Linked DNA regions of Homo sapiens: region 2 is linked to region 1. Evidence: fine-mapped expression QTL. Tissue or cell type: whole blood. Region 1 holds a variant in brackets; the other region holds the start of a gene. All regions are shown on one strand. Distances are from middle to middle.

Evidence for each region. PIP is the estimated chance that this variant, and not a neighbour inherited with it, causes the effect.
Region 2: it holds the start of FSTL3, and the variant in region 1 is fine-mapped to the expression of FSTL3 in whole blood (TOPMed, PIP above 0.99).

Annotation. Positions count from the first base shown.
Region 1 is chr19:695,437-703,689 of GRCh38, reverse strand. It overlaps PRSS57 (serine protease 57), which reads left to right and starts at 8,238. Exons shown (of 5, transcript NM_001308209.2): 1 at 8,238-8,253. The variant A/T (reference allele first, on the strand shown) is at 4,269.
Region 2 is chr19:671,849-679,869 of GRCh38, reverse strand. It overlaps FSTL3 (follistatin like 3), which reads right to left and starts at 3,478. Exons shown (of 5, transcript NM_005860.3): 1 at 3,344-3,478; 2 at 1,893-2,078. The coding sequence starts at 3,446. RefSeq lists a silencer at 1-167 and an enhancer at 622-1,124.

The DNA.
Region 1 (8,253 bases):
AGGTGGGTCCCAAAACCTCACTCCTCCCCTGTCCCTGAGTCAGAGACCCCCCTCGCCTCTCCCCAGCCATGACTTTAGCTGAGGCCTTATGGCCCCCACCCCAACCCTGAGCCATGTCGCCTCCGGGTCTCCCCACCTCCTCTCCCTACTCCACTCTTTCACCAGAGAAATATGCCCTGGCCTGCCCCAGCTCAAACACCATCTATGGTTCCCCAGTGCCCTGCAGCCCCACAAGGCAAAGCTGAGCCCAGACAATCCTGTCTCTTCCCTGCTCACCTCTCCTTGCCCCACAACCAGCTTGGGCTTCAGCCATCCAGACACCTGCTGTTAGACGCCTTGTGTGTTCCTCTGGGAGAACTTCCCCAGCTTCCCCATTGTCACTGGGTGCCCTCGGTACCCTTGTTGTTTTTATTTTTTTGAATAAGATAGGGTCTCACTCTGCCACCCAGGCTGGAGTGCAGTGATGTGATCTTGGCTCACTGCAGCCTCGACCTCCCCCATCAGGTAATCCTCCCACCTCAGCCTCCTGAGTATCTGGGACTACAGGTGTGCACCACCACACGTGGCTAATTTTTTTTTTTTGAGACAGAGTCTTGCTCTGTTGCCCAGGCTGGAGGGCAATGGCGCAACCTCAGCTCACTGCAACCTCCACCTCCTGGGTTCAAGCCATCCTTCCACCTTAGCCTCCTGAGTAGCTGGGATTACAGGTGCCCACCATCATGCCTGGCTAATTTTTGTATTTTTAGTAGAGACGAGGTTTCACCGTGTTGGCCAGACTGGTCTGGAGCTCCTGACCTTAGGTGATTCACCTGCCTCGACCTCCCAAAGTGCTGGGATTACAGGCGTGAGCCACCGTGCCTGGCGTTTGCTATTCCTCTTGTCTGTCCACACTCTCTTTCCCACTAAATTCTTCTGACAGACAATGTCATTTACATGTTGTGTTCAGCGTTTCCTTCCTGCCTCTCTGCTGAATGTCAGCCCCACAAGGGCAGGAACTTGCCTGTCTTCTTCACTGCTGAGTCCCCAAGGCCCACAACACTGTCTGTACACAGTAGGTGCTCAATAAATGCTCACGGAATGAGTTGAGTGAATGAATGGATGGTTTCCTGTCTTCTACCCTCTTCTCTGACTGTGATGGCTTCCATGGGAAGGACGGGGCAGGATCCAGCTTACGGATGGGCAAACAGGCGCTTTACAAGGGGCGCCAGGGCCCCAGTCCCCACCAGCATGCCGCATCCAGTACCTTGCTGTTTTTTTTTTTTTCCAACGGAGTCTCGTTCTTGTCACCCAGGCTGGAGTGCAGTGGCGCGATCTCAGCTCACTGCAACCTGCATCTCCTGGGTTCAAACAGTTCTCCTGCCTCAGCCTTCCGGGTAGCTGGAATTACAGGTGCCCGCCACCACCCCCAGCTAATTTTTGCATTTTTAGTAGAGACGGGGTTTCACCATGTTGGCCAGGCTGGTCTCGAACTCCTGACCCCAGGTGACCCGCCTGCCTCAACTTCCCAAAGTCCTGGGATTACAGGCGTGAGCCACTGTGCCCAGCCAACCTTGCTGAATTCTCATCAGCACTCTCGGCATTGCCCCAGGGCAACCCATTCCCTAGATGGGAAAACTGAGGCCAGAGAGCTCCGGGGAGCAGGGCCTTTGGACAGCTCAGGGACCCCCAGTAGCGGCCAAGCCAGCCCTCTCCAGTCTGGCTGGAAGGCAGGTAGTGTTGGGTTGTGCTATGTGTATTCTTTTTTTTTTTTTTTTTTTTTTTGAGATGGAGTCTCACTCTGTCGCCCAGGCTGGAGTGCAACGGTGCAATCTTGGCTCACTGTAACCTCCTCCTCCCAGGTTCAAGTGATCCTCCTGCCTCAGCCTCCCGAGTAGCTGGGATTACAGGCACACACCACCGCACCCAGCTAAGTTTTGTATTTTTAGTAGAGATGGGGTTTTGCCATGTTAGCCAGGCTGGTCTGGAACTCTTGACCTCAGGGGATCCGCCTGCCTCAGTCTCCCAAAGTGCTGGGATTACAGGCGCAAGCCACTGCGTCCAGCCAGTGCAATGTGTATTCTTAAGGCAGCTATCTTCCATTTCAAGAAATAGGAAGCAGGTCCGGGCACGGGGACTCACGCCTGTAATCCTAACATTCTGGGAGGCTGAGGCGGGTGGATCCTCTGAGGTCAGGAGTTCGAGAGCAGCCTGGCTAACAGGGCAAAACCTGTCTCTGCTAAAAATACAAAAAAAGATCAGGCGCGTTGGCAACGCCTGTAATCCTAGCACTTTGAGAGGCCAAGGCAGGCAGATCACCTGAGGTTGGGAGTTCAAGACCAGCCTGACCAACATGGCGAAACCCCATCTCTACTAAAAATACAAAATTAGCTGGGGGTGGTGGTGGGCGCCTGTAATTCCAGCCACTCAGGAGGCTGAGGCAGGAGAATCGCTTGAACCCGAGAGGCAGAGTTTGCAGTGAGCTGAGATCATACCACTGCACTCCAGCCTGGGCAACAAGAGCGAAACTCCATCTCAAAAAAAAAAAAAAAATTAGCTGGGCGTGGTGGCGCATGCCTGTAATCCCAGCTACCTGGGAGACTGAGGTAGGAGAATCTCTTGAACTCAGGAGGAAAAGGTTGCTGAGAGCCAAGATCGCGCCACTGCTCTCCAGCGTGGGTGACAGAGCGAGACTCCCTCTCAACAACAACAACAAAAAAAAAAAAAAAAAAGAAGAAGCAATGTCCTGTGGATATACATTTATTGGGGTTAAAAAATAAAGTGAGGCTGGGCACAGAAGCTCATGCCTGTAATCCCAGCACTTTGGGAGGCCGAGGCAGGTAGATCACAAGGTCAGGAGATCGAGACGATCCTGGCTAACACAGTGAAATCCTGTCCGTACTAAAAATACAAAACAAATTAGCCAGGTGTGGTGGCACACACCTGTAGTCCCACCTACTTGGGAGGCTGAGGTAGGAGAATCGCTTCAACCTGGGAGGCAGAGGTTGCAGTAAGCAGAGATCACACCACTGTACTCCAGCCTGGGTGACAAAGCATCTGTCTCAAAAAAATAAAAATAAAGTGAGGCCAGGCTCAGTGGCTCATGCCTATTACACCAGCACTTTGGGAAGCCAAGGTGGGAGGATCAGTCGAGGTCAGTTTGAGGCCAGCCTGGGCGGCATAGTGAGACCCCATCTCTACAAAAAAACTTTTTTTTTTTTTCTTGAGACGGAGTCTCACTCTGTCGCCCAGGCTGGAGTGCAGTGGCGCGATCTCGGCTCACTGCAAGCTCCGCCTCCCGGGTTCTCGCCATTCTCCTGCCTCAGCCTCCCGAGTAGCTGGGACTACAGACGCCCGCCACCGTGCCCGGCTAATTTTTTGTATTTTTAGTAGAGATGGGGTTTCACCGTGTTAGCCAGGATGGTCTCGATCTCCTGACCTCGTGATCCATCCGCCTCAGCCTCCCAAAGTGCTGGGATGACAGGCGTGAGCCACCGTGTCTAGCTTTTTTTTTTTTTTTAATTACCCTGGTGGTTTTGTGAGCCTGTGGTCCCAGCTACAGGGAAGGCGGAGCCAGGAGGCAGAGGCTGCAGTGAGCTGTGATTGCAGTCTCAGCCACCAGGCAACATCTCGTCTTGAAAAACAATTTTTCGCAGGGGAGGGGCCGGGCGCGGTGGCTCACGCCTGTCATCCCATCACTTTGGGAGGCCCAGGCGGGTGGATCACCTGCCATCAGAAGTTCAAGACCAGCCTGGCCAACATGGTGAAACCCCATCTCTACTAAAAATACAAAAAATTAGCTGGGCGTGGTGGTGGGCGCCTGTAATCCCAGCTACTCGGGAGGCTGAGACAGGAGAATCACTTGAACCCGGGAGGCAGAGCTTGCAGTGAGCTGAGATGGTGCCACTGCACTGCAGCCTGGGTGACAGAGCGAGACTCCGTCTCAAAAAAACAAAATAAATAAAATAAAAATGTAAAATTAAATACAATAAAGGAAGCTGTTGTCACCATTGCTGTTGACTCCCTGCAGTGGCTGGTGTCTGAGCTCCTGAAGAGCCGCTCAGATCTGCCATGGAGAGACCCTCCAGGAGAATCGCAGTCCAGCGGCTCATGGGTCAAGACCCTGTGCTGTGTGGCCCCAGACAAATCGGCTCCCCTCTCTGGGCCTCAGTTTGGGAAGTGGGAACAGTGACCCCCACTCAGCCCCCTCCTCAGGGCTGCCAGGAGCTCGGTTTTCTGAGACGCTGGAGGACGGTTGTTTATTTCACAACTGTTCACCAAAAGGGAAGGAA[A/T]TGGCCCAGCTCTGGATAGAATCGGTCCCGAGAGGCAGTGGGAGCTCCTCTGAGGCAGCAGCCCCGGCCCCCTGGCTCCTCACTGTGTGGCAGGGCTAAGGCGCTTACCCTCTCCCTACTGTGTCCCCATCAGCGACCGGGACAGGGACAGCATCGTGAGGGAACAAAGTTCCACACGCCTGCAGCTTCGGGCAATTCTCCTTCTAACGCCCGTGGAGCTGGGGACGTTTTCCAGGTCTCTGCCTCAGTGCTCCGCGACGGAGGGCAGCAGGGGAGGTAGGAGCAAGTCCAGGGGACCCACTCGTGCTGACGCGACGACCGTGGAGACCAGAGTGCCTGCTGTCCAGTCGTTTGACAATATTGACGGACAGCCGGGTGCGATGGCTCACGCCTGTAATCCCAGCACTTTGGGAGGCCGAGGCAGGCCGATCACTTGAGCTCAGGAGTTTGAGACCAGCCTGGGCAATATGGCAAAACCCATCTCTACCAAACAAATAAAACAAAACAAAACAAAAAAACACAAAAATTAGCCGGGCGTGGTGGCAGGCACCTGTAATCCCACCTACTTGGGAGGCTAAGGCAGTAGGATCGCTTGAACTCAGGAGGCAGAGGATGCAGTGAGCCGAGATCAAACCACTGCACTCCAGCCTGGGCGACAGAAGGAGACCCTGTCTCTAAAAGATAAAAACAGGGCCGGGCGCAGTGGCTCATGCCTGTAATCCCAGCATTTTCGGAGGCCAAGGCGGGCGGATCACGAGGTCAGGAGTTCAAGACCAGCCTGGCCAACATGGTGAAACCCCATCTCCACTAAAAATACAAAAAATTGGCCGGGCGTGGGGGCAGACGCCTGTAGTCCCAGCTACTGGGGAGGCTGAGGCAGGAGAATCGCTTGAACCCGGGACACTGAGGTTGCAGTGAGCTGAGATCACGCCACTGCACTCCAGCCTGGCGACAGATCGAGACTCCATCTAAAAAAAAAAAAAAAAACACCCACACACAAAAAAACAATATTGATGGAGCACGGCCCATGCGGTCACAGCGATGCCAGACGGTCCAGTAGACCACAGCAGAGCAGGAAATGGTCCCCAAGTACACGGACCCTGAGCTGGGGTCCCACCTGTCCCCAGGCCCTGGAAACAGCTTTCCATTTCCCAAAATCTTTCCTGCAGCTGCTGTAACGAATTCCCAGAAACGTAGTGGTTTAAAATGATACCAACTTGGGCCAGACATGGTGGCTCACACCTGTAATCCCAGCACTCCGGGAAGCCGAGGCTGGAGGATTGCTCGAGGCCAGGAGTTCAAGACCAGCCTGGGCAACATGGCAAAACCCCGTCTCCACAAAAAATGAAATAATGAGCCGGGCCTGGTGGTGGCAGGTGCCTGTGGTCCCAGCTACTTGGGAGGCTGAGGTGGGAGGATGGCTTGAGCCTAGGAGGTCGAGGCTGCAGTGAGCTTTGATTGCACTGCTGCACTCCAGCGTGGGCGGCAGAGCAAGACCCTGTCTCCCTGTCTCAAAATAAATATATACATAATAAATGAGGCTGGGCGCGGTGGCTCACACCTGTAATCCCAGCACTTTGAAAGGCTGAGGCAGGCAGATCACGAGGTCAGGAGATTGAGACCATCCTGGCTAACGTGGTGAAACCCCATCTCTACTAAAAATACAAAATATCAGCCGGGCGTGGTGGCGGGCACCTGTAGTCCCAGCTACTTGGGAGGCTGAGGAAGGAGAATGGCATGAACCCAGGAGGCGGAGCTTGCAGTGAGCCGAGATCGCACCACTGCAGTCTGGCCTAGGCGAAAGAGCGAGACTCCATCTCAAGAAAATATAATAATAATAATAATAAACGAAATGGCACCAATTTATTCTCTGGCAGTGCTGGAGGTCAGAAGCCCCTGCAGGCCCTTCTGGGCTAACGTCAGGGCATCGGTAGGGCTGGCTTTTCCCGGAGGCTCCAGGAGAAAATTCGTTTCCTGCCGTTTTTTAGCTTCCAGAGGCCGCCCGCATCTCGCAGAGCCCGAGTTCGTTGTGGGGCCTTTTCATACCTTCCTTTCCACGCATTTCCTGTTGCTTCATTTCACTTCATTCTTTATTGAGAACACTTTACATTTGGTAAAACACAGGTCTGGAGCGTTCAATGATGACTTTTTTTTTTTTTTTTTTTTTGAGATGGTGTCTCGCTCTGTCACCCAGGCTGGAGTGCAATGGTGCAATCTTGGCTCACTGCCACCTCCACCTCCCGGTTCAAGCGATTCTCCTGCCTCAGCCTCCCAAGTAGCTGGGATTACAGGCACCTGCCACCACGCCTGACTAATTTTGGTACTTTAAGTAGAGACGGGGTTTCACTATGTTGGCCAGGCTGGTCTTGAACTCCTGACCTCAGGTGATCCACCTGCCTCGGCCTCCCAAAGTGCTAGGATTATAGGCGTGAGCCACTGCACCCGGCCCCAGCCTGTTCATTATTAAGCGCTGACGAGCACCCCACTGCTAGCCACTGCCGTGAACGCCATCACCCGGCTGTGTGAGCTGCAATTTACGACCTGAACTTTGCCACTAAGAACGCTCCCACTGAAAGGTGAAGACCTGCCGGGCTGGGCGCGGTGGCTCAGGCCTGTCATCCCAGCACTTTGGGAGGCTGAGGCAGGTGGATCACCTGAGGTCGGGAGTTCGAGACCAGCCTGACCAACATGGAGAAACTCCGTCTCTACTAAACACACAAATTTAGCGGGGCGTGGTGGTGGGCACCTGTAATCCCAGTTACTCAGGAGGCTGAGGAAGGAGAATCCCTTGAACTCAGGAGACAGAGGTTGCGGTGAGCCAAGATCGCGCCACTGCACTCTAGCCTGGGCAACAAGAGCAAGATTCCTTCTCAAAAAAAAAAAAAAAAAAAAAAAGGCCGGGCACCGTGGCTCATGCCTGTAATCCCAGCACTTTGGGAGGCCGAGGCGGGCGGATCATGAGGTCAGGAGATCGAGACCATCCTGGCTAATATGGTGAAACCCCGTCTCTACTAAAAATACAGAAACAAAATTAGCCGGCTGTGGTGGCGGGCGCCTGTAGTTCCAGTTACTCGGGAGGCTGAGGAACGAGAATCACTCGAACCCGGGAGGTAGAGGTTGCGGTGAGCCGAGATGGTGCCATTCCACTCTAGCCTGGGCAACAAGAGCAAGACTCCATCTCAAAAAAAAAAAGAAAAGAAAAAAAAGGTGAAGACCCCCATGTACAGCCATGTCCCACTGGACTCCGGATCCCACAGAACGTCAGTGCTACAGGCTGGGGTGCGGTCACTGCCTCATCCTCACCTCCTAGCATGAGGTCTGGTATACACTAGGCACTCAATAACTGCTGAATAAAGGCAGAAATCTGCCAGGTGCAGTGGCTGTCTTCTGTGATCTCAGCACTTTGGAAGGCCGAGGAGGGAGGATCGCTGGAGCCCAGGAGTTCGAGACCAGCCTGGGCAACATAGCAAAACCCCACCTATAAAAATAAAATAAAATAAAGGCAGAAATCATCAGAGCTTCCCAGGAGACCGGCCTTCCTCGCTGTCCCCACAGCCCTGAGGTCGGCCCTGGGTTTGGAGATGGGAAGACTGGGGTTTGCGGGGTGGGGGCCGGAGGCGAGCTGCGGGTCTCGAGTGCCGCTGTGACCTCGGTTCCTCGGAAAGCTCCCCACACATGCTGGGCCACGTGGAGGCTGGGTAAACTGAGGCACAGAAGGGTCAATTGCCTTCCCGAGGTCACTTGCAGCCCCAGAGCTGTCTCCTCCTCTCCCTGTTTCCGGACTAGGGGACAATGATTATTATCAACATGATTATTACCAGCCACCACCTGAGACCATCGATTTCTCAGAAACGCCCGCCTGGGCTCCAGGCGTTGCTGGTGGGGCCTCCCGACCACAGGCCACAGCCAGGCTCCCCCTTTCCGGCCGTTGGCTGAGGGTGGGAGCCACGGCCCGAAGACCTCTGCGGGGAGACGCCAGCCTGCG
Region 2 (8,021 bases), 24 kb after region 1:
GGTGTTCCGCCCTTGCCAGGCGCGAGTCTGGGGCTGCCAGGACCTTCCCCCAGGAGGCGTCGGGGAGGGCGGGGCGCTGGACGGCCCTCCTGGCCTGGGGAGCGATTCCAGGGGAGGGGGCCCCCCACAGCCCTAGGCCTCTGAACCAGGAGCTGCCCCGCAGCCCCGCTGCTCAGACAGGGATATTGAGGTCCTGCTAGGGAAGCTCTCTCTGGGGTCCCCGCCCCCGCTTTCAATGTGAATGCTCATCGCCTCCTAGGCTTATCGCATCTTCCCAAGTCATCATTTTACAGATGGGGAAACTGAGGCCGGGTCGCAGCTATGAGTGCAGGGGCCCAAGCACCTCAGTTTGAAAGCTGCAGCCAGGACCCAGATGACCAACCCCCTTTCTGTTATCTGGGGGTCTGGTAGGGCCTCTGAACACAGCTGTTGAGTTTATGTGCCAGCCTCAGTTTCTCTGTGTGTAAAGTGGGGCTGACGAGGGAGCCCCACTTCCAAGGCAGTGCGGCACTCCTTAGGGGATGGCCAGCGCCCGCCACGCAGCCCTTGCAGGGCATGTGGGCCGCACCTGGGCGGCCCCGGCACAGCGGCTCACAGGCACATCTGGAAATGCTCGGCCAGGGTGGCTTTTATGCGAGCGAGAACGGAAGGGGGCCTGAGTTCCGTCCCCAGGGCCAGATGAGGTTGGGGGTGGGGGGTCCTGGGCCGTCTCATGCCCAGGCCAGGCACTTTTTGAAGACTGTCCTTCTCCCAGAAGCCAGAGGGGGGTCTGGAGGGAGCAGGGGTATGTGGCAGTGAGTTCAGGACCACCCAGCCAGGCTGATCTGGGATTAATCACATCTCAGAGGCCAGCAGAGTTCCTCAGCCTGGCCTTCGGGTCTGCAGCCCTCAGCTTCAGCCTCCCCTTGGCTCCTCTGCCTGACCCCACCCACCAGGACCTAACCTCAAGCCATGTTCTCTCCTGATCCACTCTCCCATACCGGCCCCATCTGGCAAACTCCTAGACATCCCCCAACACCCCAGCTCTAATGCCCACCTCCTTCAAGATGTGCCCCAACAGGCCAGGCATGGTGGCTCACGCCTGTAATCCCAGCACTTTGGGAGGCCAAGGCTGGCAGATCACTTGAGGTCAGGAGTTTGAGACCAGCCTGGCCAATGTGGTGAAACCCTGTCTCTACCAAAAACATAAAAATTAGCCAGGTGTGGTGGCGCGCGCCTGCAGTCCCAGCCCCTGGGGAGGCCGAGGAAAGAGAATCACCTGAACCTCGGAGGCCGAAGTTGCAGTGAGCCAAAATCGCACCACTGCACTCCAGCCTGGGTGACAGAGCGAGGCTCCATCTCAGGAAAAAAAAAAAAAAAAAAAAAAAAAACCATCATCCTCCAGTGCGGAGAATCTTATTCATTCGTTCTGTGCCACTCGCCAACCAAGAGCCCCTAGTCTGATGTGGGAGGCATCCTCTCAAAACAGGGTCCCGAGGCAAATGCTTGTTAAACATGCAGCTGTAACCCCACCGCAGACCCTGGAGTCTGCAGTGAAGGTCCCTGGTGTGGACATTTGGGGTCACAGGCCAGAATGGCAAACCCACCTTCCCAGGAGCTAGGTGCAAGCCAGACATTTATCGACCAGGTGGGAAGAGCCACCCAGGCAGAGAGCTCAGCCCCAGCAAAGGCTGGAGCCACGTGGTCTCTTCCTGAGTCCTGAGCTGCAAGAGGCTGGAGCCTGGGAACCGGGAAGTCCCCCCAGTCCCTCTCTGAGGCTGGGATCCCCCTGCAGCCTCCTACATACCCCTGTGACGGGCTCAGTCCCTGGACGTTCGGCCCTCGACCACCATGACTGTTTGTGGCTGGTCCTGAGCTGAGACGTCTGCCCTGCTTCTGGCCTGAGGTCTCACCTTTGCAGGGAAGGCAGTGGACAAGGCCCAAGAAGCCGAGGAGGTTGATCTTGTTCCCCGGGTGGGTGAGGTTGGACCAGGCGGTGTCAATGTTGCCGGAGGCACAGCACTCGGCCCGGGTGACATCAGTCTGGAGCACCAGGCTGCAGGTGGCCTCCTGGCCCTGCTGGAGCCAGCAAACACCACCTGCGGGCCGGGGAACGGGGTGCTCTCCTGGGCCACTCCTGACACCCAGCTTCTGGCCCGCCCACAGATGCATGCAGGTGGTGCTGAGTAGTTACGCACGGAATGATCTACCCCCACCCAGGAAGAAGGGGCAGAAAACCACATGGGTGTCCCCACCCTGGCTCCAGAACCCTGGAAATGTCTCCTCCCCTCTGAGCTCCACGTGCCCCCCCCCACAGCCTCACCACCAACCCCCACCCACCCCAGGAGGTCCCTTCCCGTACCCTCCAAGCCCCCAGGCCAGGGGCTGGCACCCTGCCCAACCCCTCAAACACCACCAAACACCAGGCACTGGGCATGTCAGGGTCAGCAGGCCCTGGAGCCGCTTCTCCCGCCTCTGCCCTCTGTCTAGACAGCACCCGAGGGCGAGGGCACGCGGAGCCCCGCGCCTGGCAGCCCCCCCACCGCCTGGCCCGCCTCTTACTCACTCCAACTTGGGAACATTCCCCTTGCATGAGCTCACTGTCTCCCCAGGGACGTGGCCTTCGGGGAGGGGGCTCTGCTCTCCCTTTGGCGCAGGGCTGGGGTGGGGTGGGGCTGCAGGGATGGGGGGTGGGGAGCCAGAGAGCCCCCCATTTCTTCCCCCGTCCCTGGGGGCAGGAACGGCCACAGCCCCCATCCCAGAGCGCTTGCTGGTTCACAGACACTGCCAGGGACCAGCTTGTGGAACGCAGCACCTTGGCACCCATCATAGGAGGGGAAACTGAGGCCAGGAGTGGGGCCGTCTCCTGCCTGGCACCTCCCGGCAAGTCCCAGGTGTGAGACTCCATGCCCCGTCTACCCAGGACCCGGGAAAGCTCTCAGCCCCAGCTGGAGGGCCTGGCTCCCGACACCCAGCACTACCTCTCGGCACCAGGACCGACCCGGACGGTCGCGGCTAGAACCCTGGCTTTGCCTGCTACAGGCTGTGTGACCCTGAGCCTCAGTTTCCCCATCTGGAAGACGGAGATGAAGAGAGCTCCGGCACTATCGGGATGGCACAGGTTCAGGGAGGGGAGAGGTAGACACTAAGCGCTCAATAAATGTCAGCGGTCATTGTGATTAGAAACCTCTGCTCTGCTGACCTCTTGGTGACCCTCCTTCAGACCTTCCCGGCTCCAGCTTGCGCCGGACACCGCCCTCGCCCCCGCCGCCGCCGCCGCGCCCCCCGACGTCCCCCCGGCCGCATTCCGCGCAGCCCCACGTGGGTGGCCCGCCCCGCCCGCCCCTCTGGCCGCCCCACTCACCGGGCGCGGGGTTCCCCGAGCCCATGGAGCTCACGAAGCCCACGGCCCAAGCCAGGGCCCCCCAGGGCAGAGGCCAGAGTGGCCCTGGCGCCCCGGGACGCATGGCGAACGCAGAGACGGCAGCGGCACCGACTTCCCAGCGCGCGGCCGGCGCTCCCTATAAAGGTCCCGCGGGCCGCGGGCGGGGCGGGGCGCGGGGCGGGGCGCGGCGCGGGAGTGGCGGGGGCGAGGCCGTGTCCCGCGCGGGGTGGGCAGGCGCCGGGCCCGGCCGCTGCGGGGGGCAGTTGGGGGCGAGCGCCCGGGTCCCCTTCCGGAGCCAGAGAATGCATTTGGGGAGATGTGGCTGGACCCAGGGCGGAACCGGGACAGGGGTGTGGGTTCGAGGTGGTGGCAGCCTTTTGGGTGGATCGAGGGGCCGTCTCCAGGAATTAAAGTGGGTTTGGGGGTCTTCAGTTTCAGGGGTGGCGGTGAGGTAACGGGGACCCAAGAGGAGCACGTCTGTGGATCCCTGCATCCCGTTTCTGTGATTTGCATGTGGTCACTTTCATGGTCCAAGTGTGGTCTGAGCCCCCCAACCCGGCCTCCTTGTTCCCGACCCGCCCCACACACCCAAAACCTCAGCTGGATATGGTTCCCTGCTCACAGCGCGGGCCGCGCACCCGTCCACCTGGCCGCTGGAGCCGGCCTGTGGGTGGGGAGTGGTTGGGTGTGGGACAGAACGGGGTGCGGCCGGGACAGACCCAGAGACACAGCTCCTTCCAGCATCTCGGACAACAGCAGGCCTCGCCCAGCCACGGCCCCCAGGGAGGCCACTGCGTGTGTGTGTGTGTGTGTGTGTGTGTGTGCGCGCGCACGCCTGGCCTTTGTCCTGGGCCCCTGGGCAGCTCTGCCCCATCAGCCCTCCAAGCCTTTGCAGACATTCCCCCAGATCACCTCAACAAGAATGTTTACTAGGTTTTTTCCTCTCCCTCCAAGATTCAGCAAACACTGTTTCCAGCAGAGGCGTTTCCAACAATGTATGACAGCGACATCTGCGTGGGCCTGGAGGCGCTGCGCCCGAGGGGGCTTTCGTGCAGCCAGACACATTTCCTACTCTGGAGCTGATTCTGTCATGGGGGCCTCCAGATTTGTCAGGCGCCCTTGGCGAGCGCAGGGGAGCCCCTCTGTTCCTGCTTCTAGGGCATCAGTGAACATCTCTTTTGGCCAGAGGGACCCTGCGGGGTGCTGGGGTGCCACGGTGACCAAGGCAGACCCCATCACACCCTCACCGAGCTCCTGGTTTGGACAACAAAATGCAGAGACAAATTAATCTATAACTTCAAGGAGTGGTAAATGCTTTCAGGAAAATACAGAAGGTTGAGGTGGTGGAGAGCGGTTGGGTGTCTGCTGGGCATGCCTGTGTCTGGCCACTCGCTGTGCCGGCATTGCCCACCCCGCAGGTGGAAACGGACGTGTCCAGCAGCCCCACGGCACAGCCCCTTCTCTGGCCTGAGTGAGATCTGTGCCCACAGAAGACACACCTGTACCCTTTCCTCCACCTTAGCTGCCCAGCCTGTGTCCCCCAGCAGCCAGTGGCCAGGGGCCAAGTTCTGCCTTAGTGGCACTGAGGGGGGACACCCCGCCGTCTTGACCTGGCCTTGGCCTCTGGCATTTCCCCCGGGAATCTCCCCGGCTTGGGGAGCAGGGCAGGGACGGGACCCTGTATTCTCACTGAGGGGGGACACCCCGCCGTCTCGACCTGGCCTTGGCCTCTGGCATTTCCCCCGGGAATCTCCCCGGCTTGGGGAGCAGGGCAGGGACGGGACCCTGTGTTCTCACTGAGGGGGGACACCCCGCCGTCTCGACCTGGCCTTGGCCTCTGGCATTTCCCCCGGGAATCTCCCCGGCTTGGGGAGTGGGGCAGGCACAGGACCCTGTGTTCTCACTGACGGGGGACACCCCGCCGTCTCGACCTGGCCTTGGCCTCTGGCATTCCCCCGGGACTCTCCCGGGATTGGGGAGTGGGGCAGGGATGGGACCCTGTGTTCTCACTGAGGATGTGCGGGGGCTGGACAGTGTGACCTTGGCCAAGACCTGACCCCGCCGTGGCTTGGCCACTCCGGCCTGGGCTGTGCGAATCAAAGGGTCATTGTCTGGCTGGCGTGGGTTCCGGCCCTCTCCGGGGAAACCGAGGCCAGCTGCCAGTGGCCTCCTGCTCCCGGCTCTGTCTTCCCTAACCCAGAGGCTCTGTGCAGGGTGACCTCTAACAGGTCACTGACCCTTTCCAGAGCGCCGCCTCCTCCTGAGACCCCAGTGATGACCTCCCCTCTCCCGGCTCTGCCCCTCTCCCCACCCTATCCAGGCCCGAGGCTCATCCTAGGACTTCCAGCCCGCAGCCTGGCCCCTGCGGCCCACTTCCTACCCCAGCTGCCATAACACTTCTCCCTGGCTCAGACACCCACCGTGGCTCCTCGTGGCCTCTGCTCACCCCCCAGGCTTCTGTCTCCCTCCAGGTACATCCTGACAGGTAAACAGACAGTGACAATCCAGTGTTGTTCTGTGGCGGAGGATGCCCAGATGGCAAAGGTGCCCCAGGCCTGACCCGGGCCTGGGGGAGACTGAGGAAGGCTTCCCAGAGGAAAGAGACGTTGAGGTTGAGACTCGAACGTCAGACGGAGCGGCAGGGGTGTGCGCTGGAAACAGACGCTTGTGCTGTGAGTGAGGGGGAGAGCAGTGGGGGGTGGTCAGCAGAACGGCGGTCCCAGAGACCATGGGGCCCTCATCCCTAGAACCCGTGGGTGTCCCACCCTCCCTGGCCAAAGGGGCTCTGCAGATGGGACTGAGTTGAGGGCTTTCACACAGGGGTTCATCCTGGGTTATACGGATGGCCCACTGTCCTGGAAGGGTCCGTAGAAGAGGAGATGCCTGGCCGGGCGCGGTGGTTCACACCTGTGAACCACCAACACATTAGGTTCACACCTGTGAACCTCCAACACATTAGGAGGCCGAGGCAGGCAGATCACTTGAGGTCAGGAGTTCGAGACTAGCCTGGCCAACATGGTAAAACCCTGTCTCTACTAAAAATACAAAAAAATTAGGTGGGCCTGGTGGTGTGCGCCTGTAATCCCAGCACTTTGGGAGGCCGAGGCAGGAGGATCACTTGAAGTCAGGAGTTCGAGACTAGCCTGGCCAACATGGTAAAACCCCGTCTCTACTAAAAATACAAAAAAATTAGGTGGGCCTGGTATTGTGCACCTGTAATCCCAGCTACTTGGGAGGCTGAGGCAGGAGAATCACTTGAACCTGGGAGGCAGAGGTTGAAGTGACCCGAGATCGTGCCACTGCACTGCAGCCTGGGTGACAGAGCGAGACTCTGTCTCAAAAAAAAAAAAAAAAAAAAGGAGACGCCTGCCCTCTATGGTTAGAGACAGGATAAGAGAAGGACTTGGCTGCCATTGCGGGATTTGGAGATGGAGGAAGGGGGCTCAAGCCAGGGAATGTGGGCGGCCTCTAGGAGCCTGGAAAGGCGCGGAACAGATTCTCTCCTGGAGCTGCCAGAAGGAATGCAGCTCTGCCAACACCTCGATCTTCTCCCAGCCAGACCCGTGTGGAACTTTTTTTTTTTTTTTTTTGAGACGTAGTCTCGTTCTGTTGCTTAGGCTGGAGTGCAATGGCGCGATCTCGGCTCACTGCAACCTCCGCCCCCGGGTTCAAGCAATCCTTCTGCGTCAGCCTCACGAGTAGCTGGGATTGTAGGCACCTGCCACCACAACTGGCTAATTTTTGTATTCTTAGTAGAGACGCGGTTTCGCCATGTTGGCCAGGCTGGTCTTGAACTCCTGACCTCAGTGATTCACCCGCCTTGGCCTCCCAAAGTGCTGGGGTTACAGGTGTGAGCCACCATGCCTGGCCATTTTTATTTTTTTGAGACAGGGCCTCACTCTGTTGTCCAGGCTGGAGTGCAGAGGTGCGATCTCGGCTCACTGCAACCTCAGCCTCCAGACTAAGTGGGATTACAGGCGCCTCCCACCACACCCGGCTACTTTTTTTTTTTTTTTTTGCAGTGACGGGATTTTGCCATGTTGGTCAGGCTGGTCTCAAACTCCTGACCTCAGGTGATCTGCCCATCTTGGCCTCACAAAGTGCTGGGATTACAGGCATGAGACACTGCGCCCAGCCCGTGTGTTGCTTTAAGCCAGGCAGTTTGTGCAAATTTGTTATAGCAGCCGTGGGTGCCCACTGTGTGCCAGGCCCTGGGACCCTTCTAGGCCTGTTTTCTTTTTCTTTCTTTTTTTTTTTTTTTGAGACAGAGTTTCGCTCTTGTTGCCAAGGCTGGAGTGCAGTGGCGCAATCTCGGCTCACTGCAACCTCTGCCTCCCGGGTTTAAGCAATTCTCTTGCCTCAGCCTCCTGAGTAGCTGGAATTACAGGCATGCACCAGCAGACCCAGCTAATTTTTTGTATTTTTAGTAGAGATGGGTTTCACCATGTTGGCCAGGCTGGTCTCGAACTCCTGACCTCTGGCGATCCAGCTGCCTTGGCCTCCCAAATTGCTGGGATTACAGGCGTGAACCACCGTGCCCAGCCTATGCCTGTTTTCTTATCTGTAACATGGGCACAGACCCCAGTGTTAGAGGTTCCAGGTGGGATGTGGACAGTGCCAGGCGCACAGTAGGGCCATGGCGTGCATAGATTCCTGT